Linked DNA regions of Homo sapiens. The protein of the gene in region 3 interacts with the protein of the main gene of each other region in a biochemical or structural test. Each region holds a gene or a part of one and is shown on either strand. Other genes may lie near its edges. The genes, in order: PTPN11, DNM1, GRB2 and ERBB2.

The links.
Region 1: the proteins of GRB2 (region 3) and PTPN11 form a complex in vitro, tested with the Homo sapiens proteins (4 studies listed by BioGRID, with this or other methods).
Region 2: the proteins of GRB2 (region 3) and DNM1 form a complex in vitro, tested with the Homo sapiens proteins (5 studies listed by BioGRID and IntAct, with this or other methods).
Region 4: the proteins of GRB2 (region 3) and ERBB2 form a complex in vitro, tested with the Homo sapiens proteins (4 studies listed by BioGRID and IntAct, with this or other methods).

The regions. Positions count from the first base shown.
Region 1 is NC_000012.12:112,505,937-112,510,439, reverse strand, and holds the end of PTPN11 (tyrosine-protein phosphatase non-receptor type 11), read right to left. Parts: 3' UTR 522-4,503; downstream 1-521. UniProt on the Homo sapiens protein: Acts downstream of various receptor and cytoplasmic protein tyrosine kinases to participate in the signal transduction from the cell surface to the nucleus. Positively regulates MAPK signal transduction pathway. Dephosphorylates GAB1, ARHGAP35 and EGFR.
Region 2 is NC_000009.12:128,198,916-128,206,378, forward strand, and holds the start of DNM1 (dynamin-1), read left to right. Parts: upstream 1-4,463; 5' UTR 4,464-4,555; coding exon 4,556-4,716; intron 4,717-5,270; exon of another isoform or gene 5,271-5,307; intron 5,308-7,463. UniProt on the Homo sapiens protein: Catalyzes the hydrolysis of GTP and utilizes this energy to mediate vesicle scission and participates in many forms of endocytosis, such as clathrin-mediated endocytosis or synaptic vesicle endocytosis as well as rapid endocytosis (RE).
Region 3 is NC_000017.11:75,318,668-75,325,698, forward strand, and holds part of GRB2 (growth factor receptor-bound protein 2), read right to left. Parts: intron 3,161-7,031; coding exon 2,992-3,160; intron 1,887-2,991; coding exon 1,701-1,886; 3' UTR 1-1,700. UniProt on the Homo sapiens protein: Non-enzymatic adapter protein that plays a pivotal role in precisely regulated signaling cascades from cell surface receptors to cellular responses, including signaling transduction and gene expression.
Region 4 is NC_000017.11:39,717,046-39,724,076, reverse strand, and holds part of ERBB2 (receptor tyrosine-protein kinase erbB-2 isoform a precursor), read right to left. Parts: intron 7,011-7,031; coding exon of another isoform or gene 6,909-7,010; intron 6,758-6,908; coding exon 6,597-6,757; coding exon of another isoform or gene 6,593-6,596; exon of another isoform or gene 6,420-6,592; intron 4,291-6,419; coding exon 4,243-4,290; intron 759-4,242; coding exon 620-758; intron 540-619; coding exon 417-539; intron 166-416; coding exon 67-165; intron 1-66. UniProt on the Homo sapiens protein: Protein tyrosine kinase that is part of several cell surface receptor complexes, but that apparently needs a coreceptor for ligand binding. Essential component of a neuregulin-receptor complex, although neuregulins do not interact with it alone.

The DNA.
Region 1 (4,503 bases), on a different chromosome or scaffold from region 3:
CTAATACTATTTACATTCAGTTCTGTGTGTTTTCTAACAATTTCCTCTGTGTGTGTGTGTGTGTGTGTGTGTGTGTATGTGTGTGTGCGCGCGCGTGCGCGCACATATATATTTTTGGGGGGCATGCAGTGAGAGTAGGTGAGAAAGGGTCTCACTATGTTACCCAGACTGGTCTAAAACTCCTGGGCTCCTGGGTTCAAGGAATCCTCCCGTCTCAGCCTCCAAGTAGCTGAGATTACAGGGGCGCGCCACCATGCCCAGCATTTCTTCTATAGTTTACACAGACTATACTTTTTACTCTTGAGTTACTCATATGTTCTCCCAGATAGAACTCCCTATCTCCTAAAGCTATTTCTACAGGAAACACTCAATGAATTCTTCAGGAACTCATGCCTTTATTCTATGTTCCAAGTCACTTCTAGATAAGAGCTGCTAAATGTCAGTATTTTGCCAGTGTGAGAGGTGGAGTGACCAATAATCCCATTTTTTTCCTGGACATTTCTGATGAAGCAAACGACAAATGCCATCATATAAGAAAATGGTTTTATTCCTAATTTTTAGTTCCCATACAGTTTACAAATACACTTTTACTCTGATAATACAGCTTTGCAACTAGCAAAGCAGTTGCGCTAACACCCATAAATATAGGTGGGGAGACAATTAACATCCACTAATGTTTCTCTACATAAACTATTCTTTTAATGTCATTTTTTTAAGAACAGTTGCAAATAGACTACATAATATACGTGGGCAAAAAGGCAATTAAGTGAATCTCTTGAAACACTAAATGTATAATAAACAGCATATTATCAACATTTACATGATTCACATCAAAATGATGACATCCTAAAACGTATTCCTTTTAAAGGATAGATTTATCAATAAAATATTACATATCTTTTAATACTCTGGTACAATACTTCATATACTGCAGGAAAATTAATTGTAGGTCTAGTCATCAGCTTAATCAGGGATCCTTTTCCCATTAGCTTTTATTAATAAAAGAATCACAATTAGGTCATAAATAAACAGGCAAATTATTAATTACATGATTTGAGGCTTAGGATGAAAACTTGTCAAAATTAGTTTGATATACAGCAAAGTTATACAACACACTAAAACCAACTGTTCAATAGTTTTTGCCTTGTGTGAACTGCCCATAGTGAAAAAGGAACAAATTTTTAGTGATGAAAGATACAATAAACTATATTTTGGAACTTTTCAAGAGGAAGAAGGAAAAAAGATTTCAACAAAATTAAGGGCAAATACAGATCCTAACAAAGGCATCCTGACATCAGGGAGGCCATGTGCTTGCTATGTGTGAAAGTTGATCCCCCAACAACATACAGAAAACAAAAGCTGCACTGGCTTTGTAGTTATGTCTATAGTCTAAGTTTCCCTTATGGATACTAAGCTACAACAAAACACTTGACAATTGCAAACCTTTCCACATCCCCCTGAATTAAAAATAACTCAAGATGTTATTAGTTCTTAAAATCCCCAATAAAATAACCTCTAAAAATAATCTTGACCATTTTCCTGGCTGTTTCCCCGAAGCAACTTGGCTCTTTAAAGAATGCACACACACCAAGAAAGTCCTACCCGTGTCTCCTCATCCCCATTTAGCCACATTTGAAAAGACCTTGGTTTCAGTGGGAGAGATGACCATAAGTTTCAGAAGGGCCACACACTGGACATGAAGCGCCTTTTAGTTTTTTTTAAAAAAAGTTATTAAGACTGTGAAATTTGGCTTTTTTTTTAAACTCCAATACCTAATGTGCCAGATAATTCTTTCACCCCAAAATATAAAATCCTATGCTTATAATTTTAAAATCCTCAGTGAGCTATGGAATATTGTGCATATTTAATACCCACCAGCAACCTAGAAGTAGATGGCATCCATGTGTCTGTCACACCGACTTTCCAAACAACCTCATTCACCCATTACTGACTGCTCTGGCCCTGGGCGCTCTGACTTCCTCAGAAACCACCTCTTTGGAACTTTCCTTTCCACAACTTTTTTTTTAAAACTTCACCTCGAGCTTTCTCCATCATCCCAGCCTCTCTGCCTGATTCCATCTCATGTAAAGTAAACTCGTCTGAGAACCTGCGATCACCTTTTACCAAGCACATGATAAGCCGTAGCAACCTAGGGACTATGATAACTCTGGCCTTGGCCTAAGTTTACATAAGAACATGATAGTTTGCTGACCTCGTGGAGGGAAATCTAAATGAAATCAATATCTTATAACAAAACTAGCCAAGATCAGGTATTTCCATTCTGAGTATAAAAGCAACTGATCTTAAGCAACAGGCAGAGATGTTAATGCAGAAGATATATTTGTACAATCAAACTCTTGTGTGCTGGTGAAAGACTTTACCCCCAAAGTCAAGTCAAGTCAAGACAAAACCAAAGCAAAATGGAGAATGAGTCGATGTAACAATGCGATAAAAAGAACAGCATTCAAGCTTCTTGCTGCAAATACTGAACTGGAATCTTTTTCTTTACAAGTTTGACTAGAAGACAGCAGTGACACTTCCCTAATAAGGGAATACCTTCAGGCCACACCTGTGTTCTGAAGCAATTCAAAGTTCAAGGAATATTGGGGGGTGGAGGTGGGGGCTGATATACATTTTGTCAGTGAGAATGGCAGCCAAACTACCCCAAAGTCTCAAGGGACTGAGAGACCTCAGAAAGGAACTACCACCAGGGCTGGATCTAGGCCTTCCTTTCAGAAGCCAAAGTCAGAAGAATCCAAGGAGGCCACAACTTCATGGCAAAGATGCCATAGCATTATTACCATCACAAAAGTCAACCAATGATATTTTCATTGAAATATCCGCACTGGATGATTCAACATATGAGGCAAAGAGGGATGTCTTTGGAGAAGGCACTTAATGTAGAACATTAGCAAATCTTACTGGTTGGCTACAACAAAAATGAGCTCATTCAACCTGGCTGGAGGCCTGTTAGGGCTGTTCCTTCTCACTGTGGCCTGACTAAAACCCAGTGGCATTAAGAAAGAGTCACGTTTCCCAAGTCTGGGGATGCCCCAGTGGGGTGGTGCTGCTCTCAAAAGCCCTGTGTCCCTAAACACATCCATCCTCACAAGATCAGTTTCCCCAAGTGCTGGTTCCAAAAATAGGCTCAGGGCTAGCAGAAATCATTCAGGAAGCTTCTTGAAGGCCCTCTCTTTATTTCTTAGTCTGACTTTCAGCTTGTCCCAGCTACTGTAAGCAGCTTCGGCTTCCCAAGGTCACTAGCAACTTCTGCTTTTGCTAATATCCTTGGTTTTCCATGGCACTGGTTGTGACCGTCTGTTAGACTAGTGGCCCCCCACTTAACTGCACCTCTACTTCACACCCTTTTCTTGAATCTGAGCTGGGCTTGTGACTTGTTTAGTAAGTAGAGGGCATACCCCAGCTTTCTTCTGATTAGAAAAAACCATCATCATCATCATCATCATCATCATCATCATCATCATCATCATCAATAGAGGGAAGTAGAAGGGACACTGTGACAATTCTGGACTTAAGTTTTCAGAAGGCCTGGCCATTTCTGCTTTTGAGCTCTTGGGAGCTCTGAGCTGCATGTGAGAGGTCTAGCTACCCTGCCAGCCAGGCCACTGAAAGAGACTACACGAAGAAGGAGAGACTCAGGACTGCAGGCAGAGAGAGAAGCCCAGCCATCCCAGTCTCTCCGCCGACCTGCTGACCACATGAGTGGCCACCTGCAGGCTGGCAGAAGAACAGCCCAGCTGAGCCCAGCTCAGATTGACTAACAGTTGGGGGCAGGTTTTTTTAAGCCACTAAAGTTTTGGGATAAGTTTGTCAGCAACATTTGGCGACCAAAAACACTGGTCATTCATAGACGCCTTTTTTCTAAGTACAAGACAATTATTCAAATGCAAAGAAAATATGGCAAACGTTTTCCCACCACAAACTTCTCAGTCAACAGCCGAACTATAATTGGTCAACGGCTGGAAAAAAGAAAAAAAAAAAAGCCACACCTCTTACCTTAATTCATAAATATCCATGATTCTTTTTCTATGACTCTTTAATGCCAGTGCAAAGGTCAACTTCTGACAGTCTCAGGCACTGGCTTAATTCTCATTTGGCCAAAAATAGAAGCCATCAAAATGAATTATCCACTACTGGATACATGATGGTAAATGAGATTGTTCTCACTTTTCTAGGTCGTTGTTACTTAATTTTCCCAAATCATTTCTTCTCATCATCCCCAACAATGAGGAAAAAAAAAATTAAACTGGTTAAGGGTATAAAAATAAAAATAAAAAAGCCTATTACTAGAATTTGAATCCCCATAATCTGCAAAATACAGCGCACAATTTAACTGCTTCCTCAATTTCAAACAAATTCTATAAAATATAATGTTGTCTACATTGTAGAGATGATTTCTTCTTATCTGAGGAAATGAGTAATTGGGAAGCAGGTATTGTTGAGTTAAAATACAGTGGTCTTTAAATGGTTTCAAATTTTGCT
Region 2 (7,463 bases), on a different chromosome or scaffold from region 3:
GAGCTGGCATAGTGTAGGATGTAAATATGGAAGCTCTGAGTCACACTGACAACCGTCTACATCTTGACTCCATCATTTCTTGGCTATGTGACCTCAGACATGTTCTTTACTAACCTCTCTGTGCCTCAGTTTTCTCATCTGTCAAAGGAGGCTAATAAAACTTCTTTCTCGGCTGGGCACGGTGGCTCACGCCTGTAATCCCAGCACTTTGGGAGGCCGAGGTGAGTGGATCACCTGAGGTCAGGAGTTCAAGACCAGCCTGGCCAACATGGTGAAACCCTGTCTGTACTAAAAATACAAAAATTAGCTGGGCATAATGGTGGGCACCTGTAATCCCAGCTACTCAGGAGGCTGAAGCAGGAGAATTGCTTGAGCCCAGGAGGCAGAGGTTGCAGTAAGCAGAGATCATGCCACTGCACTCCAGCTTGGAGCTGGAACAAGACTCTGTCTCAAAAAAAAAAAATTCTGCCCAGCACAGTTGGTGGTCAAAACTTTGGGAGCTCAGCCATGTATGGTGGCTCACACCTATAGTGCCAGCACTTTGGGAGGCCAAAACAGTAGGATCACTTGAAACCAGGAGTTCAAAACCAACCTGGGCAACAAAGCAAGATCCCGTCTGTACAAAAAAAAATTGTTTTAATTAACTGGGCATGGTGGTGTGCACTTGTAGTTTCAGCTATTTGGGTGGCTGAGGCAGGAAGCCTACTTGAGCCCAGGAGTTTGAGGCTACAGGGAGCTGCGATTGTGCTACTGCACTCCAGTCTGGGCAGCTGAGCAAGGTTTATCTTATCTCTAAAAACAAACAAAAAAACAAAAACAAAAAAGCTTTGGGAGCTCAAGAGAGAGTAAAGAAGCCATTTCTTTCTTTCTTTTTTTTTTTTTTTTTGAGATGGAGTCTTGCTCTGTCACCCAGGCTGGAGTGCATGGTGTGATCTCGGCTCGATGCAACCACCACCCCTGCCTCCCAGGTTCAAGCAATTCTCCCACCTCAGCCTCTCGAGTACCTGGGATTACAGGTGCGGGCTACCATGCCCAGCTAATTTTTGTATATTTAGTAGAGATGGTGTTTCGCCATGTTGGACAGGCTGGTCTCCAACTCCTGGCCTCAAGTGATCCACCCGCCTTGGCCTCCTAAAGTGCTGGGATTACAGGTGTGGGCCACTGCACCTGGCCCTGAGATTCTTCTTTTCAACCAACTCCATGTGATGCCAGGCTGCTGGCCTGGCATCAGTGATACAGCAGTATAGGATACTTAGTATAATCCCATTTCTGTAAAAACAAAATGGAACAAAATGAATATGTGCATATATGAAAAACAAAGCCAGAGAACGATCCCTAAGCTATAGTGGTTATCTCTAGGTGGGAGGATGACCAGAGGTTTTCAAATACTTGTGTAAAGTCTGGTTTTACAATAAGTTTCAATATTGTAATTAGGGGGGAAAAAGTAAAAATAATAAAAGCTGGCTGGGCATGGTGGCTCACAGCTATAATCCCAGCATTTTGGGAGGCTGAGGCGGACAGATCATGAGGTCAGGAGTTTGAGACCAGCCTGGCCAAGATGATGAAACCCCGTCTCTACTAAAAATACAAAAATTAGCTGGGCACAGTGGCGAGCACCTGTAATCCCAGCTACTCAGGAGGCTGAGGCAGGAGAATTCCTTGAACCAGGGAGGGAGAGGTTGCAGTGAGCTGAGATCACACCACTGCACTCTAACCTGAGCGACAGAGCAAGACTCTGTCTCAAAAAAAAAAAAAGAAAGAAATACAAAAAATTAGCTGGGCGTGGTGGTGCATGCCTGTAGTCCCAGCTACTTTGGAGGCTGAGGCAGGAGAATCACCTGAACTTGGGAGGCGGAGGTTGCAGTGAGCTGAGATCACGACACTGCACTCCAGCCTGGGAGACAGAGCGAGACTACGTCTCAAATAAATAAATAAATAGGCTGGGCACAGTGGCTCATTCCCGTAATCCCAACACTTTGGGAGGCTGAGGCAGGAGGATCACAAGGTCAAGAGATCGAGACCATCCCGGCCGACATGGTGAAACCCTATCTCTACTAAAAATACAAAAATTGGCCGGGCGCAGTGGTTCACACCTGTAATCCCAGCACTTTGGGAGGCAGAGGCAGGCAGATCACAAGGTCAGGAGATGGAAACCATCCTGGCTAACACGGTGAAACCCTATCTCTACTAAAAATACAAAACATTAGCCGGGCGTGGTGGCACGAGCCTGTAGTCCCAGCTACTTGGGAGGCTGAGGCAGGAGAATTGCTTGAACCCAGGAGGTGGAGGTTGCAGTGAGCCAAGATCGCACCACTGCACTCTAGCCTGGGTAACAGAGCGAGATTCCGTCTCAAAAAACAAACAAACAAACAAAAAATACAAAAATTAGCTAGGAGTGGTGGCACGTGCCTGTAGTCCCAGCTACTCGGGAGGCTGAGGCAGGAGAATCGCTTGAACCCAGGAGGCAGAGGTTGCAGTGAGCTGAGATCATGCCACTGCACTCCAGCCTGGCGACAGAGTGAGACTCCGTCTCAAAAATAAATAAAATAAATAAGTAAATAAATAATATTAAAAGCCCAGCCATGATGCCCTCTAGGCAAACATCTATAAACTGCACCCCCTCCTGGTGCCAGTCATCCAGGCTTCCATCTCTGCCTTCTCTTGTCCTCAGAGCATAATAACAGGTTGGCATGGAACAGCTGCCAGGTTCCATGCAAGTTGTGTGGCACTGATGCTCCAGCTGTCTGGTGAGCTGTTATCATTGGCATCCTCACAGCTGCAGCTTAATAAGGGCCCCCTGAGCACTAGGCCTGGGCTGTGCCCTACACAGGCATTTGATCTATTATTATCCCCATTATCCAGATTAGTTAACTGAGGTTCAGAGACGTGGAGGGACCTGGGTCACGCAGCTTGTTTAAGGCCCAGATTAGACTCCTAATCCACTCTCTGGTGCTACCAGGGAGAGGGCCTGCTTGTTCCCCATGCCTGCCTCGAAGATTCCTCCCCACAAGGGTCACTCTCTGATCACCATCTTCACAATAGCAACACCACCCTACCCCGCCCCTGCTTTCTTGCTCTGCAGGGCACGCCATCTAACAGGGCCATCGTTATTGCCCTATTTGCATATTGTCTGTCTTTTTCCACTGAATTGTCAGCCACATGTGGGTAAGGACTTTGTCCGTTTTGCTCACTGCTTTATCTCTGGAGTCTAGCATAGTACCTGGCTCAACAAATACGCATTAAATGGATGAGTAAGTGAACAGTCTCCAATTCACAGACCACTTTGTCAGCAGTGCCCCCACACTGTTCACAGCGCAGGGAAATGACTCACCGACTCCCCATGAGCACAGTGTAGGCTAGCCTTCCCTTCCTAGCCTCCACCGTGAATACTAATTAGGTTTCTTAAATGCAGAGATGGACGGCTGGGCTCAGGGCCCCATGGTCTGTCTGTGTGAAAGGGTACGCAGGGTAGGATTGTAGGAGCCCTGGATTTGAATCCCACTGTTTTACGCTGTTTTACCACCATCCTGATGGGTTGGAGCAAAGACTTCCACTCTCTAGGACAAGAGCTTCCAACTCTCCCAAGAAGGGCCCTCCAGGTGTCAGGGCCTCTGCACTTGCTGGTCATTCAGCCTGGCATGCTCTTCCCCTGATCTGCTTGCTGCTGGCTCCTTCTCATCATTTTGGTCTCTTCTCAAATGTCACTTCTGCAGAGAACACCCCCGACTCCTGCCAAGCCAATGTGAACTTTCCACACCCACAAAGATACCTTTTTTCACCCTGTTTATTTCCTCCATCCCTCTTACTATGAATTATTTTCATTTTTACTATTTCATTTATCTGCTTACTTATTTACTGTCTGTCTCCCCAGCTTGATGCAAGATCTATGAGGGCAGAGGCCTTGGCTGTCTTATTCGTTGCTGAATCTTCAGTGCCTAGGACAGGGCCTGGCTTCTAGCAGGTACCTAGTAAATATTTGTTGAATTCATGTTCCAACTTTCTCCTTCTAGAAACAAGGAAACTGAGGACCAAAGGCAGAAGAGGACATGTTGGAGATCAGAGTCAGGATCTAGGGATAGAAGCCAGCGAGATGAAGGGGAACTCATCTCGGAGTTCTGACCTCTGAGGTCAGGAGGCTGTGACCTCAGAGGAAGCCCATCTGCTCTCCAGGCCTGTTTCCTCATCGGTAAGATGGAGTGAAACATCCAGACCACTCTCCAAGAGGCCTGGTACTAGGAGTGAGACCCAACCCATTGACAAATATATTCTGCGCAGCATCCGCGCACCCCAGACACTGCTAAAGCACCCCAAAAGCCGCAGAAGGTGAAAACTACGACACCCATGATGCCCCGGACGGCGCCTGCGCACGGCGGCCGGCCCGCAGCGCCGCGGGCTCCCCCTAGCGGCGTCCGGGAGCGGTGCTCGCTCCGATCCCCGAGGGGCGGGGGCCCCGCGGCGCAGGCAGTCTGGGCGCGCGGCTGCAGCGGCGGAGCCGGAGTCGGAGCCGGGAGCGCTAGCGGCAGCCGGATCGCAGCCTGCGGGGCCCGCCGCAGCCATGGGCAACCGCGGCATGGAAGATCTCATCCCGCTGGTCAACCGGCTGCAAGACGCCTTCTCTGCCATCGGCCAGAACGCGGACCTCGACCTGCCGCAGATCGCTGTGGTGGGCGGCCAGAGCGCCGGCAAGAGCTCGGTGCTCGAGAATTTCGTAGGCAGGTAGGCGCGGCGCGCCCCCAGGCGCCGACCCCCGACCCCCGGGATCCCTGGAGTCCCCGCCCGGGGCACTGACGGCGCGGCGACCTCGCAGCCCCCGACGCTGCACCCGCGGCCGGCGCGCCCCCCACCCCCAGCCGGAGCGAGGAGGCCCTCCCCCCACCACGAGAGCCCCTCGGGGCAGCAGCGCCCCCCGCTAGTCTGCAAACGTCGTCAAGCCTCCGGCTACCGAATCACGCCCCCTCCTCCGTCCCATCCTTTAGGGCAGACAACGCTCTGCCAGAAGCCCCGGGCAAAGAGCTGCCCCCCGCCCCCAACATGGGCATGGAGAGAGCCCGCATTACTCAGCGTCTCCGTTGGGCTCCGGGAGTCCCTTGGAGCGGGCAGCACCCGGGGGCAGCGTCCCCCACACCGGGCTCAATGGGGGACATCCCCCTACCCCCATGGGAATTCCTGGGCCGTGGCAGAGGTCAGCCCCCGCATCCCAGTCCCTAGAAGAGGACGTAGTCCCGCGGGCATCGAGGACCGGGCACGGCCTCCCGCCAGCACACACACACCTCTGCGGCTCCCGCCGCCATCCGTGCGCAGCGCGGCGAGGGGGGAGGCGCGGGCTGCAGGATGAGGAAGGGAAGAGGGGAGGAGAAACCACTTCTTATCCTTTTCTGAGCAGCCGGCCCCTTGCTTCGCCACGGCCCCTGGGTGGGGGGCGCCTGTCAGTGTCGCCCTCCCCTTGGCCTGGCCAGAGGAATCGTGTTGGAGGGAGAGGCGGCAGAGGGCAGAGATGACTAAGACAGGGATGGCGGGAGGGGGGAGCCATTTGCAGAACCTAATCCCCCTCCCGCCTCTGATCCCACAAGGCGCTGAGAGGCCTAGGTGGCGGAGAGAGGAACAACCGCAAAGACAAAGGGTCGTGGGTTTAGCGGGGCAGGCAGGGTCGTGACCCGCAGGCTCCCCACAAACCCCCAAAGGGAGGCAGAAATAGTTTTTCTGGTGCTGAGGAGAGAGAAGAAAGATAGGAGCTCTCCAGGTACTGGAGGTGGGTTGGGGGGCTGGGCAGACTGGGGGATGAAGTGAGAGAGTTTACACTGACCCCGTCTTTCATCTCCCCCCCATCTTCTTCAGAAACTCTTGCTTTCTTCCAATGACCTTCAGGGCCAAAAAAGTGACTGGCACATGGGAGAGGGAGGCAGGGGCCCTTGTCCGCAGAGGTACAGCAGTTCTGTCCAAGCCAGGTTCTGCTGCAAAACCTCAGGCAAGTCACTTGCCCTCTCTGAGCCTCAGTGTCCCCATCTCTAACATGGACAGTGGGACTGGGTGGTTGTTCCTGCCCCTCAAATGTCCTGGGAAACCCATGCCAGCCCTAGAGGTGAGAGGGAGAGGGCCTGACTGGAGCCATGTGTGTGTGGGACGTTGGAAGGCCACCGTGGGGGCGGCCGTGCCCATCTGGTCAGCAGAGGGGAAGGCATCTGTCTCTCCAATGGCTCCTGCAGAGCCCCCCTTCTGATCACATGACCCCCGGAGCTGCAGAGACACAGGCAAGAGACACACCACGGGCCCCTTCCCCAAGGGCCAGCAGTCAGGGATATCCAGCAGTTTAGAATGGAGAAACCATATTCCTACCTCTCGTCCTTTGAATGTTGGCTGAACTCCTGCCCCATGCCAGGCTGCGTGCTTCAGGCTTGGGGTAGGGAGGGGACCAACTGGTGATTTCAGCCCGCATCTACTGAGCCCATCCCATGCATCCCCCTATGCTGAGTCCTTCATAGGCTCACAGGAGCTCCCAAGAGGCAGGTACCATGATGCCCATCCTACAGATGAGGAAACTGAGACCCTGGAGGTTAGATGCCTTGCCCAAGGTCACACATTCAGAAAGGGCAGCAGCTGTTAGACTCCAAAGCCCAATTCCTAATCTCGACGCTGCACATCCTCTGACAGCCGGGTCCTGCACCAGGCACAGGGACGTGTGGGTGGGTGGGCCTCCATTTCCCCATCTGCGGAATGGAAACGCTGACAGCCGCTGCCCTGCCTTCCTGAGAAGGTGACTGTGGGCTCCACCGAGTTCATGGGTGGAAAGGTGCTTTTGTAAACATGCGGGAGGGGGCGCTGATAGCCAATTAGGCTTGGGGACCTGCATGCCCAGCCCCTGCCTTCCTGGAGCCCATGACGCAGGGGCCATCCCTGACCACAGCAGATTTCATCGAGTACTTGCTTGTTGAGTGGTGGAGCAAGGTTTGGACCGTGCCCCAGGAGGCCTGGGCCCTCTGGCTGCCCTCTCCACCCCAATGCCCTTGGCCGTTGTCCCCACAGGAGGATGTGCAGGGTGTCCAGATGCAGGCCCAGGGCAGGGGAGGGGGCTTAGGTTGATGTGAAGGAGTAGGCAGAAAAGCATTCATGATCCTCTGAAAGCTAGTGAGAAGGCCAGGGAAACTGAGGCTCAGTGGGTTCCACTGTCTCAGCCTGCCAGCTCCCTCAAGGGCTCCTGACCTCTCCAACAGGGCTCAGTCCCCAGACTGGTGAGCATAGTAACAGCCATTCTGTCTCCTGGGGCTTCCCAGGAGCCAATCCCCAACAGAAAATGCTTCACAGGAAAATGCATCAGGGCTGCCCCAGGCCCACCCGGGCTTCTGGGTGCTCAGGAGGATCCTGCTGTCAACTCTGCAATGGAGGTAGCCTTGCAGCTGCCTGGGATGCTGCTAGAACTTGTCTGGGTCTATACTATTTCTTCACCCCCTTCCCTTTTACAGAAGGGA
Region 3 (7,031 bases):
AGGGGTGGGGAGCAGCAGTCAACACAGCCCACTGGGAAGGGAGGCACAAGCAGCACTCCAGCTTCCCAGTGCTGCCCTCACACTCACCTGGACAGGTCAGGGGACACAGGATGAAAGCCATGGCCCAATCTAAGAGCAAGACAAGTGAAAAGTGAGTACTCTCACTGTGTACCCCAGCATAGGAATAGTGAAACCTGCTACAACTGGAGGCTGCGTTCCCATGACTTCCTCCTCCGCTCTCCTTGTCTGGGACTTGCTGGTTCCAGGGGTGCATATAGGGAGGGGGCGGGGGCCACAACCCCCGAGACGGTGAGGACAGGCTTCCGACCCCCCTGTAAGCCAGATCCAGTGGGATGTGGGAGAGCTGGGCGGTCACCTTCCCTCTTGCCCCGGTGGCCCATCACACTCACACTGCACCCTGGGCAAGCAGTTCCCTGAACCCCCAAGGGGCTCACAACCCTTAAAGCTGGAGCTTAAAGCCTCCTGGCTTAGTACAAGCAGGAGAACGCCTCACCTTCCACTCCTGCTTTGTCTCCTTTGCTCTACCCTGGCTCCCCTGCCCGGAGGGAAAAATATTTACACAGAGTAGGAGACAAATTGGCTGAAAAGCTCTGGACTGCCTTTAACTTATTTTAAAACAAAACAAATTAAAAAAAAAAAAAAAACACCACTCAGAAGCAACCCTTGAAATAAGGAAAAAGGCACTATGAAAAAACAACATGCTCGATAATCCCACTGGAAGGGCCAACAAAGTGGAAAGAGACAGGCTTTCAGGTGGGCTTTTTTTTTTTTTTTTTGAGACGGAATCTCGCTCTGTCACCCAGGCTGGAGTACAATGGCACGGTCCCGGCTCACTCAACCTCCACTTCCCAGGTTCAAGCGATTCTCCTGCCTCAGGCTCCCAAGTAGCTGGGACTACAGGTGCGTGCCACACCCGGCTAATTTCTTATTTTTAGTAGAGACGGGGTTTCACCATGTTGGCTAGGTTGGTCTCGAACTCCTGACCTTGTGATCCGCCCACCTTGGCCTCCCAAAGTGCTGGGATTACAGGCGTGAGCCACCGCGCCCAGCCCAGGTGGGCTTTCTCAGGAAGCCATGGAAGCAGAGACATGCTTTCCTTCTACCCTACTCTACTGTGAACTTGGACAAAATACACTGGGGGTCTGGGCTGGAAGGCAGATTCCTACAAGTCCCCTCCTCTGGAGGAAGCTAAACAGCAAAGGCATCGAGCGGCCCTGCCCGCTCCTTTTTGTGTGTATATACGAAGAACACAGGAACAGCTGTTCTTCTTTCAGTCATTCCAACTAAAACAGACATTTTGCATAGAGAGAATACCAGCCCACTTGGTTTCTTGTTTTTTATTATTGGCGTCAGCTAGGACTATACGTGGCCTTAAACGTCATGCACTGATGGACAGAAGAGAAAAAAGGATGAAAAAAAAGACAAAGGAGGGGAAAGAGGAGCAGCAGTGAAAATTTGTAATAAAAACTCTTCTTAATTTATAGGTAAGTTTTGGCATTTTTAAATCCAACGCCCCCTCCCACCCCCTAAAGTTCCAACCAAAGTGAGAGGGTCACAGGGTGACCCGGCCAGGTGTTCTGCACTCCCTCACAGGCTGCTGTCAGAGGCAGCTTGTGGGTTTAATTCTTTTGTATGTGTTTTACATTTTTCACTTTCTTTAAATAATTGCTTCTTGACTCTTAGACGTTCCGGTTCACGGGGGTGACATAATTGCGGGGAAACATGCCGGTCTGCCCGTGGCAAGCTCCTTTCCACCAGTTGGGGTCTGAGTTATCCATGACATGGATAAAATCTCCCCGGCGGAAGCCCAGCTCTCCATCCTCCTGGGGATCAAAGTCAAAGAGGGCCTGGACGTATGTCGGCTGCTGCAAAACAGGAGCAGGAAAAACCCACATTGCATTCCTGGTCTGTGACTGGCCACCTCCGAGGCCAGATGGGTTCCAGGGGGAAACGAATGCGTGCCAAATTCTCCATGTTTCTTAAACTCACCTCCCATCTCCCAACCCCCCGTTTATTCTTACCTATTCTAAGTTTACAGGCCAAGCGGGTTTAGTGTGATATTTCCCAGTGCTCAGAAAATATTAGAGTATGTCTCCCAGAGGAGGGTGGCCAACTGTGCCGTATTATCAAGTAGAGGGCAGGCAGTGCTTGGAGGAGAAAGTTCTTCAGAAACAGCCATCTGTGTTTAGGCCGTGGGCCCAGAATCGCAAATCCCTTCTACGACACCCTTAAGGTATTAAAGCCTAAAGTTCTGGAGCTCGAATAACATAAGGGGCTCTAACCGTAACTTACGACCAGGGCTCGAGGGACAGGAACGGGTGCCGACCCCATTCCCTCACAAGCATAGTTTTCCTCATAATTTGCTTCCAGGGACAGGATCTTTGGGTGGGTGTGTTAAAGACCATCTCCCTAGAGAGGCTGGCAAGCTGGCTACACACTGCCTCTGGAAAAGCAAAAACCTTGTATTTGAAACAACAAATCTTTTTTTTTTTTTTTTTTTTTTTTTGAAATGAAGTCTCCCTCTGTCGCCCAGGTTGGAGTGCAGTGGTGCAATCTCAGCTCACTACAATCTCCACCTCCTGGGTTCAAGCAATTTTTCCATCTCAGCTTCCCGAGTAGCTGGGACTGCAGGTGTGCGCCACCACATCCAGCTAATTTTTGTATTTTTAGTAGCGACAGGGTTTCACCATGTTGGCCAGGCTAGTCTCAAACACCTGACCTCAAGAGATCTGCCTGCCTCGGCCTCCCAAAGTGCTGGGATTATAGGTGTGAGCTACTATGCTGGGCCAGAAAAAAGAACTCTTTAGTGTGAATGGAGGGTAACATTTTCAGTAAGGAGCACAGAAGCCCCAGCGGCAATCCCTGAAGGGCGCCCGCATGTTGAGGGGCGCCTCCCCTTTCCTACAGGAATGCACACTGAGGAGCTATTCTTAACTAAAAATGATCCCATCTCACCCTGATGAGGCTTACCTGTGGCACCTGTTCTATGTCCCGCAGGAATATCTGCTGGTTTCTGGAGACAGATGTAGATCTGTGATAATCCACCAGCTCATTCAAAGAATTGAACTTCACCACCCAGAGGAAGTACTTCCCGGCTCCATCTCGGAGCACCTTGAAGTGCTGCACATCGTTTCCAAACCTGGGAGGGACAGAAAGCACATGTGACCGGCTAAAGGCTCTAACTTGGCAAATCGAGGGTATTTCCATATAGGAGCTATCTCGAGAGAACCACTGTCCCAGCAGCACTCCTCAGGGACTGCAGAGCAACAAGTTTCCTCACTGGGTGTCCCTGGGACGGACCTCTCCCTATGAATGATGGGCACCAGGACAACATCCAGAAACCAGAGAGGGACAGGCCATCAGTCATTCTCATTCTGAAGATGTTTGTAAGATAAAGAGTCCAGGCCGGGTGCGGTGGCTCACACCTGTAATCCCAACACTTTGGAGGCCGTGGTGGGCAGATCACCTGAGGTCGGGAGTTCGAGACCAGCCTGGCCAACATGGAGAAATCCCATCTCTACTAAAAATACAAAAGTAGCTGGGCATGATGGTGCATGCCTGTAATCCCAGCTACTCGGGAGGCTGAGGCAGGAGAATCACTTGAACCTGGGAGGCCGAGGTTGTGGTGAGCTGAGATCGCGCCATTGCACTCCAACCTGGGTAACAAGAGTGAAACTCTGTCTCAAAAAAAAAAAAAAAAAGAGTCCATGTGCCCTGAACCCTACCAAATAAAAACAGCCGTACTTAAGACAAAGGAGTGTGACTTAACATCCTTTGAATAAAAAAATAATTAAAATCTTATATGCAGGAAGAAGGTGAGGAGGGCTGGAAATACTTTCAACAATTCTCTCGTAACTGGGAATAGTTCAAAGTAATGTTTTCCATTCAGGAATTTTAGCTCCACTCATGGGGAAAAGGTCTCTGAACAAAAGGACGTACTGGGACAATAAAAGAGGCCCAGACTTCAAAACCCAAAAGCTTCTCCATCACTAGATCACACCCTTTTATACTGGCAAGCAAAACCGGCAACAGCGTGGCTGGCTGGTACTAGCTCACAGGGTCTGTCACAGGATATTTGGCTAAAACACCAGCCTAGCGAGGGCGCTTCTGCCTGTCCTGTTCACCTGGCCGGGCACTCTCGGCATTCTCGGCCGGATGCGGTGGCTCATGCCTGTAATCCCAGCACTTTGGGAGGCCGAGGTGGGCGGATCATAAGGTCAGGATATCGAGACCACCATGGCTAACACAGTGAAACCCCGTCTCTACTAAAAATACAAAAAATTAGCCAGGTGTGGTGGCAGATGCCTGTAGTCACAGCTACTCGGGAGGCTGAGGCAGGAGAATGGTGTGAACCCGGGAGGAGGAGCTTGCAGTGAGCCGAGATTGGGCCACTGTACTCCAGCCTGTGCGACAGAGTGACACTCCATCTCATTAAAAAAAAAAAAAAAAAAAAAGGCATTCTCTGAGAGTGCTTGTTCAATGAATGAATGAGTCCCTCCTCTCCTTCAGTCTTTCAGCTGATGGAAACCAAAGGCTTCAGAAAATCAATCCGGCAGGTGGCAGCACTGAGCCTCAAGGAAGCCACTCAGCACAAGATGCCTCGCATTTGGAAAAAATACTGCTTTACATGTTAAGACAAAATGTGGAAGGTGAGAAAGCTTCATTAGCAAGGGTATATTCCACGGCACTTCTGGCCCCACAGAGGCCCACTTCCACCCATGCAATGCAGGTGGTTTCTAAGAGCCCAGGGCCCCAATAATGAGCAGTGTTTCAAATCACAGGCTCAAAACATCCTAAAACTAAGAAACATCTGACAACTGTTGATTCTTGAACCTTTTTTGCAGAGGTGTGTGTGTTGTTAAAGAGAGTCATGACACCTGCTTTGCTTCTAAAACAATAAATGCATTAAATCCTTAAAAGATTCTACTTGAGAAAATGGAAGTTTGAGAGTTTCTGCTGAGCAAACAGGCAGCGTCCAGCCGAGCACGTGGCTGCCCCCGTGGTTTTGGCCACCACCCAGTGATTTACTGCTTGTTCCCCTCATCTTATAAGGTTTCAGTTACACTTGGGTCAGTATAAAACTAAAGAAAGACAGGTGTCACACATGTTTTTCTTTTCTTTTTTTTTTTTTTTTAAAGATGGATGGAGTCTTGCTCTTTCACCCAGGCTGGAATGCAATGGCTCAGTCTCGGCTCACTGCAACCTCTGCCTCCTAGGTTCAAGTGATTCTCCTGCTTCAGCCTCCGGAGTAGCTGGGAATACAGGCATGTGCCACCACGCCTGGCTAATTTTTGTATTTTTTTAGTAGGGACAGTGTTTCACCATATTGGTCAGGCTGGTCTCAAACTCCTGACCTCATGATCGGCCCGCCTCAGCCTCCTAAAGGGCTGGGATTACAGGCATGAGCCACCATGCCGGGCCACAACTATAAATTTAAAATCTACGTTTCAAAAAAAAAATCTACATTTTAATCACACATTAAGTGGTTCTAAAACCAAATAAGATATTCAGTTTGTTTGTTTGTTTTGGGAGACACAGTCTTACTCTGTCACTCAGGCTGGAGTGTAGTGGCACGATCTTGGCTCATCTGCCTCTCGGGTTCAAGTGATTCTTCTCTCTCAGCCTCCTGAGTAGCTGGGATTACAGGCACACGCCACCACGCCGAGGCCATTTTTGTATTTTTTTTTTTTTTTTTTTTTTTAGTAGAGACAGGGTTTTACCATGTTCGCCAGGCTGGTCTCGAACTTCTGACCTCAGGTGATCTGCCTGCCTCGGCCTCCCAAAGTGCTGGGATTACAGGTGTGAGCCACCGCACCCAGTTTTTTTTTTTTTTTTTTTTTTTTTTTTGGAGACAGAGTTTTGCTCTTCGCCCAGGCTAAAGTGCAATGGCGCCATCTCGCCTCACTACAACCTCCGCCTCCTGGATTCAAATGATTCTCTGGCCTCAGCCTCCCAAGTAGCTGGGACTACAGGTGTGTGCCACTATGCCTGGGTTATTTTCTATTTTTAGCAGAAACAGGGTTTCACCATGTTGGCCAGGCTGGTCAGTTCATTTTTGAAATGGAAAAGTCTCACGCTTTACATCAGTTATAAATGGGAAATGGTGGCTGGAAGCAGTGGCTCCAGCCTGTAATCCCAGCACTTTGGGAGGTCGAGGTGGGTGGATCACCTGAGGTCAGGAGTTCAAGACCAGCCTGGCCAATATGGCAAAACCCCATCTCTACTAAAAATACAAAAATAAGCCGGGCGTGGTGTCAGGCACCTGTAATCCCAGGTACTCGGAGGGTGGGGCAGGGAGAACTGCTTGAACCTGGGAGGTGGAGGTTGCAGTGAGCTGAGGCATGCCATTGGACTCCAGCCTGGGGGACAGAGCGAGACTCTGTCTCAAAAATAAGTAAATAAAATAAAAGGAAAATGGTTTTCTATCCCCCATTCAAAAACAAAACAATCTTAATGTAATCTAAACTAAGTAGTGATCTGAGTGTTGAATCTAATTACTTCTTTATATATAACTGATGAAGTGATCTGCCGGACTCCTGGGGAGGGTCCTATGATAATACATTAACTAGAAAATAACTGAAAGTAAAAAACATGGAAATAACAATTTAATTCAAAATCCCGACTTCACAGCTGAGGTGTGAATTGTTTAGAATCTTCAAGTGCTGGTTTCTATTCTCCACACTCTCCATGGCGGCAGAACTTCCTGTCTTCTCCATTCCCTGCTTACCCGCTCCCTTTCACACCTGAACTTTCCACCGGGGAAATGCAAGCCCCACATCCCCTGCAGCAGCCTTCTTAAGTGACTGTGAGGGCCTAGGATGGGGCTGGTTGATTTAAGTCAGTGGACCTGAGCAAGGCAAGCCAAGGCAGCCGACAGGCGCTCCACTATCCCATTAGAGAGAGCTGCGGGAATCCCTTGGAGGGCAGAAGCTCAGGAGTGCTGGGCACTAGGGAAAACTGGCAGGCTCCAGCTGGCTGCAGGGAGCTGCTGCTCACCTCCTGAAGGCTGT
Region 4 (7,031 bases), about 36 Mb from region 3:
AGAGCCCAGACCTGCAGCCATGGGGTCCTTCCTGTCCTCCTAGCAGGAGAGGGTGGAGGGGCTTACGTCTAAGATTTCTTTGTTGGCTTTGGGGGATGTGTTTTCCCTCAACACTTTGATGGCCACTGGAATTTTCACATTCTCCCCATCAGGGATCCAGATGCCCTGGGCAGAAAGAGGAGGATATGAGTGAGAAGAGCGTGGGCTGGATCCTACCTGCCTTCCAGGAGATCATTACTTGTCCTCCAAACATCCTTCACCACCCTAGGGCTTGGCCCCGCTCCCTTCTCCGCTGTAACTGCCCTCCCCCAAACACTGCCTCCAGCTCTTGCCCCTCCCATCAGAACTGCCGACCACACCCCTCCAGGCACCGCCCCCATCCTCTGGGGCCGCCCACCCCAGGACCTGGCCCTGACCTTGTAGACTGTGCCAAAAGCGCCAGATCCAAGCACCTTCACCTTCCTCAGCTCCGTCTCTTTCAGGATCCGCATCTGCGCCTGGTTGGGCATCGCTCCGCTAGGTGTCAGCGGCTCCACCAGCTGGGGTGAGGGGGTGGTGGGTCAGTGCCGGGGGCCGGTGCAGACCCCACGCGGGCTGGGAGGACTTCACCCCGCCTCACCTCCGTTTCCTGCAGCAGTCTCCGCATCGTGTACTTCCGGATCTTCTGCTGCCGTCGCTTGATGAGGATCCCAAAGACCACCCCCAAGACCACGACCAGCAGAATGCCAACCACCGCAGAGATGATGGACGTCAGAGGGCTGGGGGCGGAAGCCAGGGTCAGGGATTGAGGGCTAGTTTGGGGTGGGAGGGACAAAGGGGGCCCACGGGGGACATGAAGGTGTTTGGCATTCGGAAAGGGAAGTCGGAAGGGTGACCCACAGGCTTGGACCCTCTCCTACTCTAAAACCTGCCTTGGCTCCCCGCTGCCTCCACAATAAAGTCCAAACTCCTTGTAGGCAATCAGAACCCTCTCCGCATCTCCAGATTCTCTATACTCTTGCCCTTGGCTCTGGCTTAGGGCTTCAACAATTCATGGTGTAAAAATCACTAAGGACTCTGGGCGCGGTGGCTCATGCCTGGAATCCTAGCACTTTGAGAGTCTGAGGTGGGCAGATCACAAGGTCAGGAGTTCGAGACCAGCCTGGCCAACATAGTGAAACCCCCGTCTCTACTAAAAATACACACACACAAAAATTAGCTGGGCGTGGTGTGGGTGCCTGTAATCCCAGCTACTTGGGAGACTGAGGCAGGAGAATCGCTTGAACCCGGGAGACAAGAGGTTGCAGTGAGCTGAGATTGTGCCACTGCACTACGGCCAGTGCAAGACTCCATCTCAAAAAAAAAAAAGTCACTAAGGAGACTGTTAATACACATGCCCCTCAACACCAAGGGGCTACGTCCTGATAAACCAATTCTAAGTTGAAACTGAAAATGCATTTAAGACACCTAGCCTGGCTTACACGTGCTCAGAACATTTACACTGCCAGCAGCTTACAGTTGGGCAGAATCATCTGACACAAAGCCTATTTTATAGTAAACTGTTAAATAAGTTTGTGTTATTTATTTATTTATTTTTGAGACAGGGCCTTGCTGTGTTGCCCAGGCTGAGTGCAGTGGTGAGATCATGGCCCACTGCAGCCCTGACCTCTGGGCTCAAGCAGTCTTTCCACCTCAGCTGCCCAAGTAGCTGGGACTACAGACACACGCCACCACACTCAGCTAGTTTTTTTATTTTTTGTAGAAATGGGGTCTCACTATGTTGCCCAGGCTGGTCTCGAGCTTCTGGCCTCAAAGGATCCTCCCACCTTGGCCTCCTAAAGTGCTGGGATTACAGGTGTGAGCCACGGTGCCTGGCTATGTAATTTATTGAATACTGAAAGTAGGGCTGGGCATGGTGGCTTGAGGCTGAGATGGGCAGATCACCTGAGCTCTCGAGTTCGAGACCAGCCTGACTAACATGGAGAAACCCCGTCTCTACTAAAAATACAAAATTAGCCGGGTGTGGTGGTGCCTGCCTGTAATCCCAGCCACTCTGGAGGCTGAAGCAGGAGAATCGTTTGAACCTGAGAGGTGGAGGTTGCGGTGAGCCAAGACTGCGCCATTGCACTCCAGCCTGGGTAACAACAGCAAAATGACATCTCAAAATAAATAATAAATAAATAAATAAATAAAAATAAAAGTGAAAAACAGAATGGCTGTATGGGTATTCAAAGTACGGTTTATACTGAATGTATATTATTGCTTTTCCACCATTGTAAAGTCAAAAAATCCTAAGTAATATCACAAATCAGCACACAGTCTGTATGCATACAATTTTGGGGCCCCACCCCCAGAGATTCTGACTGCTGCATGGGTACAGGAATGTACACCTGATGATTTTGATGTTCTAGCCAAAATTTCCACCCACAGGTCATGATTTTCCACACCTCCCAGTGTTTGCATAGGCTGTCCCTTCAGCCTGGACCACCATTTCTCCACAGGGTCATCTTTTAAGACTCGGCTCCGCCAGGCACGATGGCTCACACCTGTAATCCCAGCACTTTGGGAGGCCGAGGCAGGTGGATCACCTGAGGTCAGCAGTTCAAGACCAGCCTGGCCAACATGGCAAAACCTCATCTCTACTAAAAATACAAAAATTAGCCGGACGTGGTAGCGCATGCCTGTAATCCCAGCTACTGGGGGGCTGAGACAGGAGGATTGCTTGAACTGCTTGAACCTGGGAGGCAGAGGTTGCAGTGAGCCAAGATCGTGTCATTGCACTCCAGCCTGGGCAACAGAGCAAGACTCCATATCAAAAAAAAAAAAAAAAAAAAAAGACTTGGCTCATCGCCAGGAGTGGTGGCTCACTCCTGTGATCCCAACATTTTGGGAGGCCAAAACTGGAGGATCACTTGAGCCCACGAGTTTGAGACCAGCTCGGGCAACATAGTGAGACCCTGTCTATACAAAAAAAATTTTTTAAATTACCCAGGCGTGGTGGCACGCTCCTATAGTCCCAGCTACTGCAGAAGGGTAACTTGAGCCCAGGAGGTCAAGGCTGCAGTGAGCCTGTGATTACACCACCACATTCAAGACTGGACAAGAGAGCAAGACCCTGTCTCAATCACTCAATAAAAAGATAGCGTATCTGGCTGGGCACGGTGGCTCATGTCTGTAATCCCAGCACTTTGGGAGGCCAAGGTGGGCGGATCTTGAGGTCAAGAGATCGAGACCATCCTGGCCAACATGGTGAAACCCCGTCTCTACTAAAAATACAAAAATTAGCTGGGTGTGGTGGCATGTGCCTGTAATCCCAGCTACTTGGGAGGCTGAGGCACAAGAAGCGCTTGAACCCAGGAGGCAGAGGTTGCAGTGAACCGAGATGGAGCCACTGCACTCCAGCCTGCAGGCAGAGTGAGACTCCGTCTCAAAAAAATAAAAAAAAGATAGTGCATCCTGGGATAGATGGAGCTCCCGGGTGTTGATCCAATATTCTTGTCACCCTCTCCTCTCCATACCCCCTTGCTTAGCACAGGGTCTGGTACATACCAAGCCTGTAACACATGCTCATTTCACGGACCGATGATCGCCTAAGACAGACTCCAGTCTGTTTTTCTCCCCAAAGTCCTTTCCAAAGGTCCCCACTGCCCAGTCAAGTCCCACCCTGTGGCTTGGGGATCAGGTCCTATGGCATCCAGGTCAGACCCCACCCTGACTCTAACTTGACCCCCTTATTCCTGTGCTTACTCAACAGCCCCCGACACCAGAACTTTGAAGACATCCTGGATTTCCTGATGCCTCCCCCTCCAGTGTCACCTTGCACCCCAATGCTTTCTACCTAAATGCAAGTGCAATACCTGCTCCTCTCTCAAAGCCTAGCTCAAATGCCACCTCCCACTCGAAGCCTCCCACCATCCCCAGTTAAGAATTCATCACTCCCTCAGTGCTGCAGCTGTACTCTTCTCAGTCTCCCTTGACTTCCAAGGAATTGAACTTTGCCTGTGTCCCTCACAAGGCATCAAGTTACTCTAGGGTGTGGAGGGACTGGGTTTCCTAGCCATCTTTCCTTGCAGTCCCCTCCCCTCAGCATCTGAGCAGGTCCTCTGTCACTTGGTGAAGTGGAAAATGACAGGAGGTTCCACAGTGGAAGAGTGGGTGGGAAGGGACATATGTCAGGGGGTCCCCTCCCTACAGCAGTGACCACCCAGCATCCAGTGGGGGAGTGAAGGGCAATGAAGGGTACATCCTGGGGTCCAGGCCAACCTGGCTCTCTGCTCGGCGGGGCAGCCCTTGTCATCCAGGTCCACACAGCTGCAGGAGAAACAGTCTCATCAACAATTCTGGGAACCACCCTCTTGGGAACCACCTTTCCAGCCTCACAACAACCCTGGGAGGGGTGTGGCTGGGTCATTATCCCCATTTGACAAAGGCAGAAACTGGGCTCAAGGCCGTCAGTGCTCCTTCTACCACCTCACAAGGAGACTCCTTCTCCAGCCAAGGAACCGGCATGCCCCGCTCCCCTGCAGCTCCTTGTGGTGGATAGGAAGCGGGGAGGGGCACCCAGAAGAGCAAGCCCGGGAGCTCAACTATTCCCTCCATAGAAGAATCCCAGGGTAAACCCATACCACTTCTCCAGAGAACGGTTTGGCAATACCTATGAAATATCATCTATGACCCAGCAGTTCCTCCTCTGAATATAGACTGTACATACTGTTTGCAAATGCTTTTTTCACTTAGCAGAATCTTGCAATGTTTTTCCATGTTCTAACACCGTGATCTGGATCTAGGATCCATATGGATCTGGACCCATATTCTTTTTTTTTTTCTTTTTTTTCTTGAGAAGGAGTTGCACTGTGTTGCCCAGGTTGGAGTGCACTGGTGCAATCTCGTCTCACTGCAACCTCCGCTGCCCAGGTTCAAGCAATTCTCCTGTCTCAACCTCTCAAATAGCTGGGATTACAGGCGCCCACCACCACGCCTGGCTAATTTTTGTATTTTTAGTAGAGACGGGGTTTTGCCATGTTGGCCAGGCTGGTCTTGAACTCCTGACCTCAGGTGATCTGCCTGCCTCGGCCTCCCAAAGTGCTGGGATTACAGGCGTGAGCCACCATGCCCAGCCTGGATCCATATTCTTTTAATTTTTCTCATTTAGTTGTCTTTAAATTGAAATGCATGAATATATCCTTGTGATAAACATTGCCAGCACTGTATTCCCACTAGGGGGCATACAAAAGAGGGCTCACTTGTGTGTGGAGCTCAATTGCAATAAACTGCAAAAACAGGGAAACAAGCTCAATATCCCTCAAAAACAAAGTGAAATTACATCCATGTTACAGGTTGAGTAATTAAAAAAAAAATAAAGGTGGTAGATCCGTCTGTACTCACAAGAAAGGATACCTCAAGTCGGGGGGAAAGCAAAGTGCAGAACAGCATCACCACACCTGGCTAGTTTTTGTATTTTTAGTAGAGACGGGGTCTCGCTATGTTGGCCAGATTGGTCTCGAACTCCTGATCTCAAGTGATCTGCCTGCCTCAGCCTCCCAAAGTGCTGGGATTACAGGTGTGAGTCACTGCGCCCAGGCTCTTGACACTTTTTGGTTTACACAAACAGCAATCTTATTTGACTCGACCTAATATAAATGTAGTATGTCTATATAAGTGTGCAGAAAAGAGCCTGGAAGGGTGAACACACAAGTCAATGCGGTGGTTCTCCCAGCAGACAGGAGAGACTGGGTGGACAGGGAGTTGAGTGAAAGGGCACGTTGGCTTTGTAACATTTATACTTTTATGTTACTGAAAATGTTTATCACAAGGATGTATTCATGTGTTTCATGTGTAAAGACAACTAAATAAGAAAAATTAAAAGAATAAGGTAGATCACCATGTTAGAACATGGAAAAACATTTCAAGGTTCTGGAAAGTGAGAAAAAGCAATTTGCAAACAATATGTATGATCTATGATTCTATTTGTTAAAAAGAAATATATGACTGGGCATGGTGGCTCACCGCTGTAATCCCAACACTTTGGGGGACCGAGGCTGGCAGATCACCTGAGGTCAGGGGTTCGAGACCAGCCTGGCCAACATGGTGAAATCCTATGTACTAAAAATACAAAAATTAGCCAGGCAAGGTAGCACGTTCCCGTAATCCCAGCTACTCAGGAGGCGGAAGCAGGAGAATTGCTTAAACCCAGGAGGTGGAGGCTGCAGTGAGCCAAGATTGTACTACTGCACTCCAGCCTGGGCGACAGAGTGAAACTCCGTCTAAAAATACATATGTGTGTGTGTGTGTGTGTGTGTGTGTGTGTTAAAATGTGCACAGATAAAAATAACTGGAGAATAATATTAATATATGTTAACTTATATATACATATTAGAATGTGCACAGACAAAAATAACTAGAGGAAAAATATTTCAAATTATTAACAGTGGGGATAGAACTGCTAGGGCATTAATTTATATTTCATGTTTTAATTTTACAATTTTAACAATGTGTTATTTTTGTCATCAGAAACAAGATATGACAAAGGGAGAGTTGGTCCCCTTTTATAGTAAGAGCCCCAGAAAGACCCCTGAAAGGAAAGTCCTCCTTTCTGCAGAAAAGACCGTTGGACTCACGAGTGGGTGCAGTTGATGGGGCAAGGCTGGCATGCGCCCTCCTCATCTGGAAACTTCCAGATGGGCATGTAGGAGAGGTCAGGTTTCACACCGCTGGGGCAGCGGGCCACGCAGAAGGGAGGGTCCTTATAGTGGGCACAGGCCACACACTGGTCAGCCTCCTGGGGGGGGCAGAAAAGATTTGTGGGGGGCTGGCACTGACACCCCCAGGGCAGTAGGATCAGGCCCTTAGTTGGGTCCCCTTTGTGCTTCCCAAGGCCACCCAGCAGCAATTTTCGCCATGCTCCTGGGACAAACACCCTTGCTCTTCACCCAGTCTCTGTGGCCCCTCCCTCGGGGCCCTCCTCCAAGCTTGATCCTGGGCAGGGACTTGAGCCAGAAAATGGGAGGCACCCAGAGAGGAAAACGCATTACCTAAGGTGTAACAGCGAGTAA